Linked DNA regions of Homo sapiens. The protein of the gene in region 3 interacts with the protein of the main gene of each other region in a pairwise test. Each region holds a gene or a part of one and is shown on either strand. Other genes may lie near its edges.

What was found.
Region 1: the proteins of HNRNPM (region 3) and LYST interact in a two-hybrid assay, tested with the Homo sapiens proteins (one study listed by BioGRID).
Region 2: the proteins of HNRNPM (region 3) and PRRC2A interact in a two-hybrid assay, tested with the Homo sapiens proteins (one study listed by BioGRID and IntAct).

What each region holds. Positions count from the first base shown.
Region 1 is NC_000001.11:235,860,264-235,864,013, reverse strand, and holds part of LYST (lysosomal-trafficking regulator), read left to right. Parts: intron 1-3,750. UniProt on the Homo sapiens protein: Adapter protein that regulates and/or fission of intracellular vesicles such as lysosomes. Might regulate trafficking of effectors involved in exocytosis.
Region 2 is NC_000006.12:31,623,698-31,627,447, reverse strand, and holds part of PRRC2A (protein PRRC2A), read right to left. Parts: intron 3,717-3,750; coding exon 3,539-3,716; intron 3,188-3,538; coding exon 3,088-3,187; intron 2,999-3,087; coding exon 2,926-2,998; intron 2,278-2,925; coding exon 2,134-2,277; intron 1,989-2,133; coding exon 1,837-1,988; intron 1,657-1,836; coding exon 1,577-1,656; intron 1,429-1,576; coding exon 1,286-1,428; intron 677-1,285; coding exon 586-676; intron 467-585; coding exon 250-466; intron 1-249. UniProt on the Homo sapiens protein: May play a role in the regulation of pre-mRNA splicing.
Region 3 is NC_000019.10:8,447,828-8,451,577, reverse strand, and holds part of HNRNPM (heterogeneous nuclear ribonucleoprotein M), read right to left. Parts: intron 1-3,750. UniProt on the Homo sapiens protein: Pre-mRNA binding protein in vivo, binds avidly to poly(G) and poly(U) RNA homopolymers in vitro. Involved in splicing.

The DNA.
Region 1 (3,750 bases), on a different chromosome or scaffold from region 3:
TTACCTGGGGAATGGTGGAGGATGAGGAACCTGATCAGATATTTAGGATGATTAGATATCCAGGATGTTATGCTAAACAGACTTAGCAGGGTTCTTTGCTAATACTGGATTTTACAAGGAAGTGCACAGATGGGCCTCACAGAAAATTCAAAAGCCTGAGTAAGTTTGGCCAAGCAAAGAATTTTTGTCAAAGCTGAGATTATTAGTAGTAAACACAAGTGACTTTGTTTTGAAGACACTTTTTACGTTACCTTGACTATACCAGGGGGTTAAAAATTTCACCCATAAACTGCCAGCTTTGATTTCATGATTATTTTCTTCTTAATTCTTTTGGACCAACCTAGTCATTCTTTTCCCAATTGTAGTTTTATTTTTGTTTGATTGCACTCACATAGTGTGTTTGTTAGCTTCGGTTGTAGAGAGAGCCATATAGTCTGGAATTTCAGAGTACCTTTTTGGTCTGTTGCTGTATTTAACTTGAACACCTTCATCTGATTAATCTTTTCCTGAATTATCTGGTTGCCGGCTTAAGTTCAACATTTTTTTTTTTTTTAGACAGAGTCATTCTCTGGTTTCTCTTCAAATTGTATAAATCTTTCGCCTTTTACTAAAGATTTCCGTGGAGACAGAGTCTCGCTCTGTCACCCAGGCTGGAGTGTAGAGGCGAGATCTTGGTTCACTGCAACCTCCACCTCCCAGGTTCAGCCAATTCTCCTGCCTCAGCCTCCAGAGTAGCTGGGACTACAGGTGTGTGCCACCACACCCGGCTGATTTTTTGTGTTTTTAGCAGAGATGGGGTTTCACTGTGTTAGCCTGGATGATCTCAATCTCCTGACCTCATCATCTGCCCTCCTCGGCCCCCAACTGTGCCTGGATTACAGGCGTGAGCCACCGTGCTGGGCCAAGTTCAAGATTTTTTTTAAGCCCTAAAATGTTATCAAGTGTGGCTTTACTTGGCCATTTGCAAAATTACAAAGGAAATGACTCATTTTTAATACTTTGTAATGTCAAAAGACAAAATTACAACAAATTTAGCTTAAAGATCTTACTTCACCTTTGCCATTGTAGAATCAGGCAACACCTCATTTTATAAAATAGAACAAGTGTTCTCATGAGCCGAGCAGAAGTGGTTGGTTTTATGGTAGTCTCACTTTATCTTGAAGGGGTGTGTGTGTGTGTGTGTGTGTGTGTGTGTGTGTGTGTGTGTTTGTTTGTTTTGAGATGGAGACTTGCTGTGTTGCCCAGGCCAGAGTGCAGTGGGGTGATCTCAGCTTACTGCAAACTCCGGCTCCTAGGTTCAAGCGATTCTCCTGCCTCAGCCTCCTGAGTAGCTGGGACTACAGATGCCTGCCACCATGCCCGGCTAATTTTTGTAATTTTAGTAGACATGGGGTTTCACCGTGTTGCCCAGGCTGGTCTCGAACTGCTGACCTCAAGTGATCTGCCCATCTTGGCCTCCCAAAGTGCTGGGATTACAGGCATGAGCCACCGCACCCGGCCTTGGGGAGATATGTTCTAAGATCCCCAGTGGAAGCCTGAAATGGTGGATAGTACTGAATCCTATATACACTATAGGGCAGGATGAGATTTCATCATGCTACTCAGAACAGGGTGCAATTTGAAATTATGAATTATTTCTGGAATTTTCCATTTAATATTTTCAGACCACAGTTGACCTCAGGTAACTGAAACCTTGGAAAATGAATCTGCGGATAAAGGGATACTACCGTATACACTGAAAAGGGGTGAGGAAAACAGAAACAGAAAAGAAAAAGCAAATTGGTCATTTAAAGTTACTTTTCTTATTAGGGTTAAAGCAGATGGGACTTCCTTATGTCAGTCATATCATATCATATCAACTGGCCTGTTTGGGATTTGACTACTAACTCTGTCTCTCCTGATTGCTTGGAAGGTCAGATAAACAACTTAGTTTTGGCTTGGTGAAGTGGAACTTCAGCATGAGTGACTCCATTTTGATTTGATCTGTTGTCCCTAGTGCAGGAGGAACTCAGTCTAAACCAGTGACCTCCTATAAATTTCATTTAACACTGGTAAGTTAGTAATATGCAGGGATTAGCCTAATTGTTTTGTTTCAGTAAAGATGGCTTGAAATAAATGGGCCATCACATGTTAAATGAAGATCTTCTAAATCAAATTATATAGTATTTGTAGCAATAGAATTTGCCCTGTAAAACTTGGATAAAAAGTCTATCAGTCTCCGAAGCCAGGAGCCATGGCTTGTGCCTATAGTCCCAGTTACTTGGAAGACTGAGGTGGGAGGATCGCTTGAGCCTGGTTCGAGTCCAGCCTGGGCAACACAGCAACACGTCATCTCTAAACAGAACAAACAAACAAAACATATATATGTATATATCAGTCTTCTGGAATTTAAGGTCTACACTTTAAGAACCAGGAAATAAGCTAATTTTTTAAAATGGATTTTCAACCTAAATATATCTTAAAAATGTATAAAAATCTGTCAGATTAATAACTAATTATAAACTGATCTTGGAGTCTTTGAGGGCACTGTATTGTCTTTGATATTATTTTATTTTGCTGCTGTGTGTCACCAGTGTTTGGCTTTGTAACTCTTAATCCCCCAACTTTGTTTACAGTAATGAGAGAGGTCCAATACGTTTGGAAATGTTGAAGGCTTTCCAGGTCTAACTGCTGAAAAACAAAAATCTTACCTAATAACATGAAAGATTAATGCTTAAAATTGATTATCTTAATCAAGAAAGGAATCAAATAATTTTCAAAAGGCTAGTCATTGTTCCATTCAAATATGATTCTTTGAAATTAAAACATAAAATGGATGAGGACATAAGAGAGCTTTTCACTATTTTAACTGAATGGAAGAAATAAATGAACAATAGGGTAGAGTACTACACATATTAGAAATGTTTATAAAACTACTGCCACTCATCTTTAAAAAGCAATGTTTATATAACAGATTACTACTTAGCAATAACAAGGAATGAACTTTAGATCACACAACAACATGGATAAATCTCAAAATAATTACACAGCACGAAAAAAAGCCAGACCAAAAAGAAAAAAAAAGTACATACTGCATTGTTCCATCTGTAAAATTCTAGAAAATGCCTATTAATCTATAATGGAAGAAAGATCAATGCTGGCCTGGAGATAAGTTACAGAGGGAAGGGGCAGGAAAGAGGGAGAACAGTGGCATACTAGGAAACTTCAGGGGATACTAGATATGTTTACTATCTTGATTTGATGATGGTTTCATGGGTGTACACATATGTTGGAACATATCAAATTATGCACTTTAAATATGTGGTTTGTTACATGTCAGTTATACCTGTAAAGTTGTGTTTAAAAGTGGCTTGACCATGAAAAGACATGAAGAAATCTTTAGTGCATATCACTAAGTGAAAAAAGGCAAACTGAAAAGTCTGCATACTTTATGATTACAAGTGTATGGCATTCTGGGAAAGGCAAAACTATGGAGACAGTAAAAAGATTAGTGGTGGAGAGAAGGAGGGATGAATACGCAGAGCACAGAAGATTTTTAGGGCGGTGAAACTATTCTGAAGATACTACAGTGGTAGCTACATGTTATTATACATTTGTCGATACCCATAGAATATACCACATCAAGAGTGAATCCTAATGTAAACTGTGGACTTTGGGTGATAATGACCTGTCAGTGTAGGTTCATTGATTATAACAAATGTACCAGTTTAGGGGGGCTGTCCATAGTTGGGGAGGCTGTACATGTGTGAG
Region 2 (3,750 bases), on a different chromosome or scaffold from region 3:
CCTTCCGAAACCCAAACACCCAGGGCTCCTTTTTCTTCTTTCCTCATTAGCATCCCAGTTTCTCACTTCTTACCCAGACTCCCCTATTACCAAAGATATTTAAAAGCTTCCCAGGATGTTCTGCAGCCTGGCACTTCACACAGCCCATTTTTAGCACCCCCCTTCCTCTATATCACAACCGCTTCAATTACTCAGCTGACACCAATTTCCCACAGCTGACCCTCTCAATCCCTTATTGGAGACACTCACTGGGTAGTCCCCAGGGGGGCCCCAGTTCCCGGCGGGGCCCCGGTGAGGTGGGGGTAGGGGAGGCTTTGGGGCAGGAGGTCCCGGCTCTGTCTCTGGAGGCCGAGAGGTTTCTGCCCAGGCCGTCTTAGGAGTGGGCGGTTCGCTGTTGGGGGAGTTGCCCTTTTTGCCATCTGCTTCAGGGGGCCGTTCCTCACCAGAAGCTGATTGGGAATCCCTGCTGTGAGCAGATCAACAGTGAAATTAAAATCAGCTGCAACTAATATACTCCTCTAAGAGTATATTACCAAAATACAAACCAAGACCCCCTCCTCTTCTCCCCTGATGGCCCTAACTCACTGGCCCTCAGCACCCTCCTCATCAGAGTCTCGCCCATCTTCCTCATCGCTGAACTTGAGCTTTTCAGTGTAGTCAACCTCTTCATGGGCCCCTGAGGGGAAATATGAGTATTAGTAACCCAAGCATTCTGCCCTCCAATCTTGGGAGGTAGTCTGGAACTATGTAACAAGATGGACTACCAATGCCAATATCCTTCCCTCCGAAGTCTAGATCCACCAATGAAGTCTTGTCATTCTTACTCCTCTCACCACTTTGCAAGGACTTGGTATTCCCCATCCATCCTCCCCTACTCTTTTTTTTTTTTCCTTTTAAAAGTCTCGCTCTGTTGCCCAGGATGGAGTTCAGTGGCACGATCATAGCTCACTGTGACCTCCAACTCCTGGGCTCAACTGATCCTCCCACCACAACCTCCAGAGTAGCTGGGACCACAGATGCACAGTCCACACCCAACTAAAAAATTTTTTTTTTTTTGTAGAGGTGGGGGGTCTTGCTGTGTTGCCCAGGCTGGTCTTGAACTCCTGGCTTCAAGCGATCCTCTCACCTAACACTCCCAAAGCACTGGGATTACAGATGTGAGCCATTGGGCCTGGTCTTCCTACACTTCAATGTCTGCCTTTCACCCACATAACCCTGTATTTTTTTTTCCTCATTAGGTTTTGCCTTTCAAGATCCAAATTCTTGACCCTTAATATCCACTTACCTGCCCAACCATCATCATTCTCCTGATCCAACTGATCAAACTCTTTGAGATTATCCTCTTTGAGAATAGAGGGACGACCCACAGGCTCTACTAAGCGCATTGGTGGCCCTGAGCCTCGGGGGCCCGCCACACGGGGAAAACGGCTGTACACAAAAAAGAAAATGAAATATGGCATGTTGTATAACCACATGCGAGACTGATCCTAGACTGAGCCTCCTGGCTAGAAAACCATCTCCTCCCCCAATAAGCTTCCCCTGCCCCCAGCCACAAACCCAGACCTGGATTGCTCACCTGGGCCCATCAGGAGTGGGGTATCGGTAAGGCCCCTGGGGTCCATAGGGCGGAGGGAACGGGAGATATGGGGGATACATCTGTAAAAGGGTCCAACAGTAGCTGCTCAGAGGGACAGTCATATACCCTTCTAGCTCCTTAAGCCTGCTATCAATCATCCTCCCACCCTCCCTTCTATCTCATAGGTCAAAGACTAAGTCCTGATTCCTAGCTCTCCAGCTTCCAGTGTAATCGTTCCAAGACAAGACACCAAGACTCACGAAAGGCGGCATCATTCCGCGGTAGGGAGGGAACTGGGGTGGGCCTGAAGGCTGTAGCCCACCCCGGGGATCATGACCATGATGAAGTTTGGAGTCCGGGCCCTCCAGCTCATCAGGGCCACGCCCACCTCCGTCCCTCCAAGTTGTAGAATCTGTATTTTGGAAAAGGTAGAGAGAGGTATCAATGATTGGAGGACAAGTGAACACAGCTGAAAGTGATGGGGAGGAAGGTGAATAAGCCAGCACCTAGCTCTGAGATGCAATAGGTAATGTCTTGGCCAAAAGGCAGCCACTCACTTTGGGGGCGGAGGCTTGGTCCGGGCCCAGACGACTGTTCGGCAGACTCCCTTTCCTTGGCAGCCTTGTCCTGGTCGCCAGCCGCCTGCAGGGTCGGAAATTCCTCTCGAGAGAATCGTGACAGTAGGCTTGATGCCCTTCCACCTATTAGGATGGGGATGCAGAACAGGAGACAGAAGACATTTCCTGAGGACATGCTATAAAAGTGGAAGACTCTGGCTGGGCGCGGTGGCTCACGCCTGTAATCCCAGCACTCTGGGAGGCTGAGGCGGGCGGATCACGAGGTCAAGAGATCGAGACCATCCTGGCCAACATGTGAAACCCCATCTCTACTAAAAACACACAAAAAATTAGCTGGGTGTGTTGGCGTGTGCCTGTAGTCCCGCTACTCTGGAGGCTGAGGCAGGAAAATCGCTTGAACCCAGGAGGCAGAGGTTGCAGTGAGCCGAGATTGCGCCACTGCACTCCAGCCTGGGTGACAGAATGAGACTCCGTCTCAAAAAAAAAAAAAGTGGAAGGCTCTGACAGGTACCAGACCATCAGGTTTCCCGCCTTCAAACTCACCCCCCTACAGAATAACTGCTTATTCCCCAAGGAGGTCAGTTCTGGCACCACTACACTCCATCATATAAGACTGAGACTTAAACTTGCTCATGTGCCTCCATGAAACTGAATATGGGTGGTCCTTGATTTAGCCAAAGAGGACCAAGGTCACTTGGCTGAAAATACAGTGCAGGGTTCATGCATCCCATGGTGCCCAGACACAGCTCCCCAATTAAGTGCTGCACTCACCATCTCCATGTGCTCCATGGGTGACGCTGGCTTGTGCCCAGGACTTTACCCCGCTTGGAACCAAAGGAGTGTTCTGGGGAAGTGTTCAGAAAGATGATAAATGATGTGGGTGGGGCAGCTATGAACCATTCTTCCTCCCCACCCCTCCAGTTCTCCAGGTACCTCGGGGGCTGCTGGGGGTCGTTTCGGCTGGTTGGAGGCAGGCGTCTGTGAAGCCGGCAGTGGCTGCGATTCCGGCGGCTGAGCGGTTGAGGCATCGGAACTGAGGGGACAGAATGGGAAGGTTATTCACACCTGAGATGCCTCCCTGACTTCTCCAACTGGTGGAGACTCAGGACTGAAATCATGCCCATTGCTACCATTTACAAATATAAGGACAAATTAATTTTGTCATCCTTTGTAGGCTGTTGTCTATTTTTTCATGCTCTCTCTCCAAGACAAAAAGCTAAAGTTTAGTACCATTCCTTAGTCATTTAACAAGGAACCTGCAATAGGTAAGAAAGGGACCTCTTCGTCTCTGGCTCAGACGTGGCTGGACTAAACCAAGCCCCAATGCTCCCTGAAGTTCAAGTTAAAATACCCATCACTCTAGGTCCCCCAAGCCTCTGTCTACCTCTTGGGGTCGGACTGCTCCTGTTTGCTTGCCCATCCTGTTCCGTCTTTTGGCACTAGTGAGACATTGGGGTCATTGCCTTTGTTCTCGGCTTTCAGGCTTGGAAGGTTGGCTGGAGGTGGCATACGCCGGGCAATGGCAACTTTCCCGAGACTCTGCAGGCCATGGCGAGGGGCAACTGGAGAACAAGACGGAGAGAGGGTCGAAAATGC
Region 3 (3,750 bases):
GTAACAGCGGGAGACCCTGTCTCGGCAAGGGAAGGGGAAGGGGAAGGGGAGGGACATATTCAAGTTTAGATGATGTGATAGTATAAAAGTGATGTCCTGAAAAGCTCTTTTTTTAACATGTCCAATCCTATTTTCTCACTATCTTCAGGACAAAATTAGGGGAAGATTCTTCTCTAGTCCATGTATATGTATACGTACATATAAAAACTTAACTCTGCAAGTCTTTTTAACTTTTGGCTGGGCGCGGTGGCTCACACCTGTAATCCCAACACCTTGGGGGGCCGAGGCGGGCAGATCACCTGAGGTCAGGAGTTCAAGACCAGCCTGGCCAACATGGTGGAAACCTGTCTCTAATAAACATACAAAAATTAGGCCAGGCACGGTGGCTCACGTCTGTAATCCCAGCACTTTGGGAGGCCGAGGCAGGTGGATTATCTTAGGTCAGGAGTTTGAGACCAGCCTGGCCAACATGGTGAAACCCCGTCTCTACTAAAAATACAAAAATTAGCTGGGCGTGGTGGCAGGCGCCTGTAATCCCAGCTACTCGGGAGGCTGAGGCAGGAAAATTGCTTGAACACAGGAGGCGGGGGTTGCAGTGAGCCGAGATTATGCCATTGCACTCCAGCCTGGGCGACAAGAGTGAAACTCCGTCTCAAAAACAAAACAAAACAAAACCAAAAATTAGCCGGGCATGGTGGCGGGTGCCTGTAATCCTAGCTACTCGCTACTTGGGAGGCTGAGGCAGGAGAATCACTTGAACGGGAGGCGGAGGTTGCAGTGAAGTGAGATAGCGCCACTGCACTCCAGCCTGGGCAACAAGAGCAAAACTCCATCTCAAAAAAAAAAAAAATAATAATAATAATAATTAATTAAATTAAATTAAAAATACGATTAATGCCTGTAATCCCAGCACTTTGGGAGGCCAAGGTGGGCGGATCACTTGAGCTCAGGAGTTCAAGAACAGCCTGGGCAACATGGTATAACACCATCTCTACAAAATATTAGCTAGGCATGGTACCATGTGCCTGTGGTCCTATTTACTCAGAAGGCTGAGGTGGAAGGATCGCTTGAGCCCAGGAGCTGGAGTTGCAGTGAGTAGAGATCGTACACTGCACCCCAGCCTGAGGGACAAGAGTGAAACTCCATCTCAAAAAACAAAAAAACCCTAATAAAAAGATTGAGTGCCTAATCTGCAAAAGACCACCACCAAATAGTGACTGCCTACCCTCTCTTAAGGTCTCCATGCAGTTCCCATGCGTAACACTCACTACTTTTGGAGTTTCTAATCAAGGAAAGGGTGCAGTTTGAAATGGCAATCCCAATACCCTGAAATTGTGATCACATCTCCTGAGGGACAAGGACCCCTCTGCCCGTGTGAGAACCATCCCTTATATAAAGTGATTCTTCACAGAAATCCCTCAAGTCCTGCGCTGCTCTAATGCATGTAAGGTGTGGAGAGCACTATTCACAGCACCATTCCAGCTCCAAGGCCACCACTGAACTACCCACATGACTCAAGCTCTTTCTGTCTCTAGCGCTTTACCAGCAAAACCAGCGCAACCTGTATGCATGGTAGCTCAGAGGGACACTGTGACAATCAACAAAGAATGGCAAAACAAAAAGCAGCTCATCTAGGGAAGCAGTACTGCATGTGGCTAAGAGCTGGGGTCACCATGTCGTCACTAGGCCTCGGTCCTATGGAGGCTACTACCTACACGCTTACAGCTTTAAAAGAGACTCTTAGGCCGGGCGCGGTGGCTCACGCCTGTAATCCCAGCACTTTGGGAGGCCGAGGCGGGCGGATCACGAGGTCAGGAGATCGAGACCATCCCGGCTAAAACGGTGAAACCCCGTCTCTACTAAAAATACAAAAAATTAGCCGGGCGTAGTGGCGGGCGCCTGTAGTCCCAGCTACTTGGGAGGCTGAGGCAGGAGAATGGCGTGAACCCGGGAGGCGGAGCTTGCAGCGAGCCGAGATCCCGCCACTGCACTCCAGCCTGGGCGACAGAGCGAGACTCCGTCTCAAAAAAAAAAAAAAAAGAGACTCTTAGCACACAGTGAGGCAATGATGTATTTTTCTACCAATAATTTTATTGAGAAGGGTAGAGAGGGGGACTGATTCACTCCTAGCCTTCTACTGTTCAGGCTTTAAAACTAGCAAACCAGAGCCAAGGCTGAGAAAACCTAGGCATCATAATCATTACAGACTAGCAAAGGGACAATTTAGCTTTCAACCCTATGACTGCAAAATATGGTAATGGGGAAGTCCATTGGAGAACCCCCCCTCCCAAAAAAACAAGCAAGCTAATCTTTGCAGGCTAGTATCTCTTTCCCTAACCAGAATAAAATCAAAGAGCTGAGTGAAAGCAAAGGCCTGGCAGCATGCATTCAAATAATCCAAAACCCTGTCTTCTAATCTTGAGCTCACAATCTGACGTGTCTCCAAAATCCTTTTTGAATAAACAATCACTCTTTAAAGTACAGCAAACACTCAAATGCATTGTATAGAGAATCTGATTTAAATAAAACAATTCAAACGGCTGTTTACTGAGTGGTTACCAAGGTAGTATCATGAAAGCAGCAAGCTGCCTGGGAGTCAGGAGGGCCTCCCCTGGAGTCTTTAGGTCAGGTTCCTGAACCTGGGTTTAAGTGTTTAAAACGAAAGTTTTCTTGATTGTCAAATGGAGTCAACTCTAACAGTACCTCCTCAGGAATCTACCCTAAATATATATTTTTATTTTTATAAATAACCAATCCATCTGTTTCTTATTCACCCACAAAATTACTCAGGAAGGGGCCAGGTGTGGTAGCTCACGCCTATAATCCCAGCACTTTGGGAGGCCAAGACGGGCGGATAACGACGTCAGGAGATCGAGACCATCCTGGCTAACAGAGTGAAACCCCATCTCTACTAAAAAAAAATATTAAAAAAATTAGCCAGGCATGGTGGCGGGCGCCTGTAGTCCCAGCTACTCGTGAGGCTGAGGCAGGAGAATGGCGTGAACCCGGGAAGCGGTTCACGGAGCTTGCAGTGAGCTGAGATCGCGCCACTGCACTCCAGCCTGGGCAACAGAGCGAGACTCCATCTCAAAAAAAAAAAAAAATTACTCAGGAAGGGGAGCAGGTTAAGTCATTTATTTTATATATGATACTACATTTAAAAAAATTTTAAAAACCTATACATTCCCCTAAAATGAACTTTTTTTTCCCTGACTATACCCTAACTCTGAATCTTTGCTGACTTTAATTGGAACAGACTTCTCATCAAAATTAAGCAAATCCTATTCTCACACCCAGGAGAGAAGTAACTGCAAAACAAGATTTCCAACCTGGGTTCCCAGATCAAGCTTGCTAGCTCACTGCATTTGTGGTCTACTGCACACTCCACTCCTGGTAGAGAAAGAATTCCAAAGAACCAAGTTTCTATTTTTCTCCTGTCTCTCAAAGGCTTTCAAGATAAAAATCCAAATTCACTGCCCATCAGCTGGCTGCCAGTGCTCCAACCTTAAAACTCTATAGCAACTTCAGTGTTCTTGTTTGTTTGTTTGTTTGAAGAAGGAGTATCGCTCTGTCGCCCAGGCTGGAGTGCAGTGGCCCAATCTCGGCTCACTGCAAGCTCTGCCTCCCAGGTTCACGCCATTCTCCTGCCTCAGCCTCCCCAGTGGCTGAGACTACAGGAGCCCGGCACCACGCCCGGCTAATTTTTTGTATTTTTAGTAGAGACGGGGTTTCACCGTGTTAGCCAGGATG